Linked DNA regions of Homo sapiens. The protein of the gene in region 1 purifies or fractionates together with the protein of each later gene. This does not show direct contact. Each region holds a gene or a part of one and is shown on either strand. Other genes may lie near its edges.

What was found. Proteins that work in one complex are often made in the same cells at the same time.
Region 2: the proteins of HYLS1 (region 1) and CEP120 purify together in Homo sapiens (affinity purification with mass spectrometry; one large-scale study listed by BioGRID and IntAct). This does not show direct contact.

What each region holds. Positions count from the first base shown.
Region 1 is NC_000011.10:125,890,668-125,894,167, forward strand, and holds part of HYLS1 (centriolar and ciliogenesis-associated protein HYLS1), read left to right. Parts: intron 1-755; 5' UTR 756-805; intron 806-2,817; exon of another isoform or gene 2,818-3,117; coding exon of another isoform or gene 3,118-3,500. Other genes in the region: PUS3 (tRNA pseudouridine(38/39) synthase), read right to left, coding at 3,118-3,500. UniProt on the Homo sapiens protein: Plays a role in ciliogenesis.
Region 2 is NC_000005.10:123,344,392-123,347,397, reverse strand, and holds the end of CEP120 (centrosomal protein of 120 kDa), read left to right. Parts: intron 1-588; coding exon of another isoform or gene 589-644; coding exon 645-879; 3' UTR 880-2,506; downstream 2,507-3,006. UniProt on the Homo sapiens protein: Plays a role in the microtubule-dependent coupling of the nucleus and the centrosome.

The DNA.
Region 1 (3,500 bases):
CGGTCAATGTTGTCTGTGTTTACAGAATACAAGTTGCTCTAGCTTTTATGTGAAAGTTTCCCTCTAAAGAGAAAGGATTGTTCGATCTTTTATATTAGAAAGAGAAGGAACTGACAGTTACCTATGGACCTTATTAAAGTTTCTATTTTATTTATTGTTTGCAAACATCATCTTCATATGTTCAAGGAAAAAAATAGGAGTGTGACACAGTTGAAATGCAGAGGAAATAACACATTAATCACTGTATAGTAGGACACATGCCATTAAAAAAAAAAACTAACTCTTGGCTTTACTGCCAAAAATCCTCCTAGCCCAGAGTCTCACAAATCGTTATTTATGTATAAATATATAAAAAGTGTCATTTAAATTTCACAACCTAAATAGTTCCTTTATTCCAACATTTATTTAGTCCTTACCATGGGCCAGAGACTTCGGATTTGTACAAATGCTGTCTAAGAGAGCAAGTACTTTTGCAAAGTTGCATTTGGGGGCTTCCCATTTGTTCCACCTGTGATGACTGTCTTGACTTTTTCTATGGCAACTACCAAAAATGTAGTCACTAAATTCTTACTCTTCTAGATTGGATAATATAATCTAGCCAGACTTGAAGGGATTTTACTTAAGATCTAAGACCCTGATCTTCTGATTCCTTTGCTTCTACACAGTATCCTAACAATGACTTATGGTTAGTGCATTTTGTTCCATGTATCACTGCTTCAGAGTTAATTTTTTTAAACTCTATTCTTCTTTTCTAGGTTTTTTTTTTACTTGAATGTAAATACCAATCAAGATACATTGAAATAAGGTAAGAAATTGAAAAAAAAAAAAAAAAACCTTGGTTTGCACTTACATATTTAAGTTATTCCACCATGATCATTGATTACATGAAAAAGAGGATCTTTAAATCAAAAGTAAAGGCCAAAGTAATTATATTTTAAGAATACTCAGGACATAATGAAGTGTTGATAGACTGGGTCCCAAAAAGCAGTGATAATGATTCAAATCCAGAAGACTTGGATCATACAATGGGCAATTTTGAATAAATCTTAAGTAATTTGTACCACTAATTCCCCATCTCTAAAATGGGGTATTTTCTGGTTCCCTGTCTGCTAGGATATAACAGCTATTATAATGTACTTTTTAGTACTACAGGGTCACCTCACCTTTTGTATGCTATTTTACTTCCTAAATCTGGAACTGTTTCAGTGAAGTCTATTTCTGTGGTCCACCCCCCTTCTGTAGCAATTATGCAGCATTAGTTTATGATTTATATATTAGTATTGTTTTTAATTGTCCCATGTGTTATTTGCACTAGCAGCTTGAGGATAGAAAACATATTTGTATACCTGAAGTCTTGAACATGGGTAGGAAAAAACTAATTATTGGTTGGTAAGTAAAACTTTGGATCTCATAAACATGGTAGAATTGTAAATTAGAGGATCAGGGTCTTAGATCTTAAGTAAAATCTTTCAAGGTTGACTAGATTATACTATCCAATCTAGAAGAGTAAGAATTTAGTGACTACATAAGTCAAGACAGTCATCATAGGTAAAATAAACAAGAAGCCTTCAAATGTAAGTTTGCAAAATTACTCATTCTCTGAGGTGGCATTTGTAAAAATTCCAAATGTGGTGAACACTCACTTTAGTAATGAAAATTATTATTGAGGAAGAAGGTCTGAGTTCAAACTTTGATGTTTATTATTTTTATGGTTGCAAAGGATAATGTATTTAAGACAACTCTGAGTTCTTTTGAATAAATACTGGTGTTCACAAGTAATATTTTGAGGATCACTTATTAACTTTGAGAACAAGCAAAGCTCTATCTCATTTTTCCTCTCTCAGTATGTGGTACTACCAGCCACTCATTTTGCTCACATCTGAAACTTAGGAGTTATCTAGAAAGCCTCCCTAGTTTTGAACAGCATATTTATTCACTGAGTCCTGTTGTTTCTACTTTCTTAATCTTAAATTCATCTACTTCTGTCCATTTGCCTCACTAAAAATCTCTTCTAGGCCATTTTCATCATCTATTGCCTCCATTACTCCAGCAGCCCCCTAATTGGTCACAGTGCCTCCAATCTTGCCCTCTTCCCATCCACAGAATACTCAGAGCAATATTTTTGCCACACAATTCTATCGGGCATGTAAATTTTTTCAGTGGCCCTGCAAAATCTAAGCTTTTTAAGGAATGTCTTTGCTCTACAAATGTGACCTGTGCTTACCTTTTTAAACTATGTTCTTGTCACTCTCAAGCCGTATTAAAGAATTGAGCTGCCTGAATGCATATGTTGTCATCTCTAACCCTTTATACAAACTGGATCTTCTGACTTAGACACATTTAAAGTGGTTCTTTATCCTCATTTTAACTGGCTCCCACTTGTTCTGCAAGATCTAGCTTCAATATCTCCTCTATAAGAACTTGCCTATAGTCACTAGCCCAAGGCTTGGCAAACACCATGGCCCATGAACTAAGAGTGCTTTTTAGATTTGTAAAGGATTGTAAAAACATGTATGCAATAGAGGCCATTTGTTGTTGACACAGCCTAAAACATTTACTCATTAATCCTTCACAGAAAACATTTACCAACCTCTGCACTAGATTTATATGCTTTGTAAGATAAGGTACTGTGCTTTATTCCAGGTAGGTAACTTTGTGCCTGGCATTAAACCAATTTATCCAATCTTTAATTAAATGAATTTAATATTCTTAAATTCTGTCTTAGAAAATAAGACACTCAGATGCAGCACTTTATGAAAATTCAGATGAGTAGTGAATATCTTATCTGCTTTGGAGAGAAAAACACAACAAATCAGATACTTGCAGGATTAGGCTTTAATGAATTTGAATACAAGGCACAGGTTTCCAGGTGTATGTAAATACATCTCCATTTTACGTTCTTTAATCGCTTAATCCTTTTGGACCGGGATAAGAGAATATTTGAAATTTCTTATTAAAGCAATAACTTCCTTAATAGGGCTTTAGTCTTTTTGCTTTTTTTTTTCTTTTAAGAGCTGATCATCTGAATTCCTAGTACTTGCAAGTAAATTTTTTTTTTTTTCCTTTTCTGTCCACCTACCATTAGGTGGTTCCTAGATCCTGGCAAATTGTCTATGGTTAAATGATGCTTTTAATTTCTGTGTCAACACAGACCCTCTTCGTTGGTGTCTCCAAATTAGTATTCTCTTCCTCTAGTGTGTCATTACAGTCCCTTTTGGCTTTTGTTTCTTCCTCATGGAATAAATGTGGGTGCTCAATTCGTCCCCTACGTACAAAATGCTGGATCCGGGATTCCAGTCCTTGGCATTTAGGACGGTCCATGAGGGGCTTATATGTGCGCATCTTCACTCCTTCTACAAAGGCACTGGTCTGCTTTATGACAGAGGGCTTAACATTTCCCCATTCTGTCATTCCATCCATCTTTGGTCCTATTCCACAGGGTACTGGAACAGTGTCCAGTCCTTGTAGCATACTATACAACATGTGAGTTTTGACAGCAT
Region 2 (3,006 bases), on another chromosome or scaffold:
CTTGGTTCACTGCACTATCCCCAAAACGTGTTTGGCACAAATAAATGTTTGTTGAATGAATTTTTAAAAATATGTTCAATACAACAACAAAGGTTTAGGAGCAACCTAAAGACCAATAATAAAGGATGACTAAATGATGATACCCCAAATGATGGAATATTATAAAACAATTTAGAGGAACATTTAATGATATTAAAAAATCTCTATATAAATGAGAAAAGTAGTATACAGAATTGCATATGTAGTATCAAGTTTTTCAAAAAATACATATTTTAAGTACATATATGCATTTTTTAAACTTGAAAATACAGAAAAATATTACTCAAATTGGGATCACATTACAGATGATTTTTATTGTCTTTACACAGCTCCAAAATATCTAGTTTTCATGTATTTTGTCACAGCTCCAAAATATCTAGTTTTCATGTATTTGTAATTAGAAAAACAAGTATTGTTTTTAAAGTTGCCTTTTATAAATGTGCAGACTCTGACTAGCCAAGTGGAACACTGGTTTTTTTTGGTTTGTTTTCTTCCTGAAAATATTACTAAAACCTTGTCTTACCATTGAATCATTTTGTTTTTAAATAGTGACATTAAGAAAACCAACACAGTTGCTACAGTGGCATTTGTTCTTGACTTCTCAGGTTAAGGCAACAAGAGCAAAAACAATACCAGGATTCCACAGAGATTGCAAGTGGAAAAAAGGATGGCCCCCATGGCAGTGTATTGGAAGAAGGTTTGGATGATTATTTGACTCGCCTGATAGAAGAAAGGGATACTTTGATGAGAACGGGTGTGTATAATCACGAGGATCGAATAATAAGTGAACTCGACCGACAGATCAGAGAGATTTTGGCAAAAAGCAATGCCAGTAATTAATAACATTTGGAAAAGCTTTATAGAGACTCTAAGTCTAAATTTTAATTTCTTTGTAAAAACCTCAAAAGTGAGGAAAATGGATGTTTTAAAATGGTATTTTCAATTTTTTATAAGCAAAATTTTGTATGTTATTGTATAGTATTTATTTGATCTTATTTACTTTATGCTACCTCTCCCACACTGGTTTTATTTGTAATTTGCATTTATATACTCATTTTAAATGACTTTTCAGTGTTTTTCATAGTTTATAATCTGATGGCTAACTAACTTTCAAAACAGCTTTTAACTAAGTTTGTTGTAGGAGAAATGACTGCGGTAATTTCCAGTTCTATAATGTTTCATGTTGAGCCAAAAGAGTATATCTTGCACTTTAAAAACGCTGCGTCCTATTCCATTTGAATGTAAATTCTTAAAAGTTGAGACCAATTGTAACCAGTTTAACTCATTTTAGATGACCTTTTTTTCTTATAATATTTGCAAGTGACAAGTTTGAAAACAAAGCAAGATCAGTGCAGAGAAGCCACATGACATGTTGGGTGACAGATTGGTCATTTATTTAAATAAAGTTAATACAGATTAAATTTGTTTCAAGAGCTATTGAATTTTCAAATTTTCAGTGTATTTATAACTTTTAAGAACATGAAGTATTAGCTTAATATAGTTTTCTCTGTTGGTTTCTTCCTCAAGTTTGCATTGTTTTCTTTTGTTAAAATTAGAGATTTCTTTTTATTTTCCAGTTATAGTAATACTAGCTGTCAGCTTAAACCCTCTGTAATAGAACATGGAAACAGACACATAAAGACATTAGCTGAAAAAATAGAGTGAAAATCAACTATTTTTTACTCCCGCTAATTTCAATCAATCGTTTTCAAAAGCGCACGAGATTCACTCATTGGATTTATGCAGTGCCCTGTCTGTATAAAAACTCTTAAGAGTTCCTTTATATCATATTCTTCAGAGCCAACATTTGTCCTCAAAGCAACGTTTCCCACCTCCTTTTACTGAGTACTGAAAAAGTTTTAGCAAAGTCACAGATTAGGTTGAATTTCAAAATATATGTACTTTAAAAAGTTCTGATTTCCAAATATAATAAAGTTAAAATTAAGTATATACTTTAGGAAGTTACCAATAACTTCCATCAAAGCAGAGTAGGATATATGGTAACATTAATTTTCGGTCATTTCAAATGAGGTATATTTCTTATTAGGGAAATTAAAGTCCCTATATTTATTATATATTTTTTCCTTATTAACAGAGTATTAATCTAGTAAAAAATAACCCAGCAGTAAATAATAAAGAAATTACTGAATGAGAGGATAATGAATCTGAATCATAGCAGGAATTTGCAATATTAATTATGGTTAGCTATTTTTCTCTCATTGATTTTTGTGCCACTTGAATGGAACAGAAGCAAGCCTTATGTTTTGGAAGGTCTGCGGTAAAATGCTGTGACTGTTTACTTTCAATTGCATTGTGTGTTGCCTGTGACTGCTTTCAAACGCTAGAGGGGGCCTCTGATTTAAAGAAATAAAAAGGACTTTTCTAAAATGGATGTGTAGTTTATTTTGCCTTTTGTAAAGCTCTTTTGGCTATTGTAACTTAACAAATAAAATCATAATTGTGTGCATCTCTGAGTTCTTGAGCAGCCTGTTACTTCTGTTTCTAAACAGAGTGGGCATAGTGTTCGGGTTTTCCTATTTCAAATGACTGTCTTTTTTTCTCAAGTGTTTACATACTATTTTTTGTCTTACAACTAGGGGAGTCTGAAATATTAACACTGTTTTGTAGTCCTTTTAGCAATACCCATTCCATTTGTAAGTGGCATCGAATGTTTTTACACTGATTTTGCCTAGGAGTTAATGAGTATGACCACAGTAGATAAATCAGTGAGTGGGTGCAGGCATGGGTGGGTGAATAAGTTTCCTAGTAACAGGAAAATATCAAATATTTTAGGGTAAAATCAGATTTACCTTTAAAATTTCTGTGGTTTTTCATGGAGAAAGTCTAGTTTCCATGTTTAATGCGGGCATGTACTGCATAGGAGGGGTGTGTAATCTACCAGGTATATCTAATACCATGTCTGTATAAACATAGGAGTTCCCTTGCAGATAAATCCTAGTAATTTCT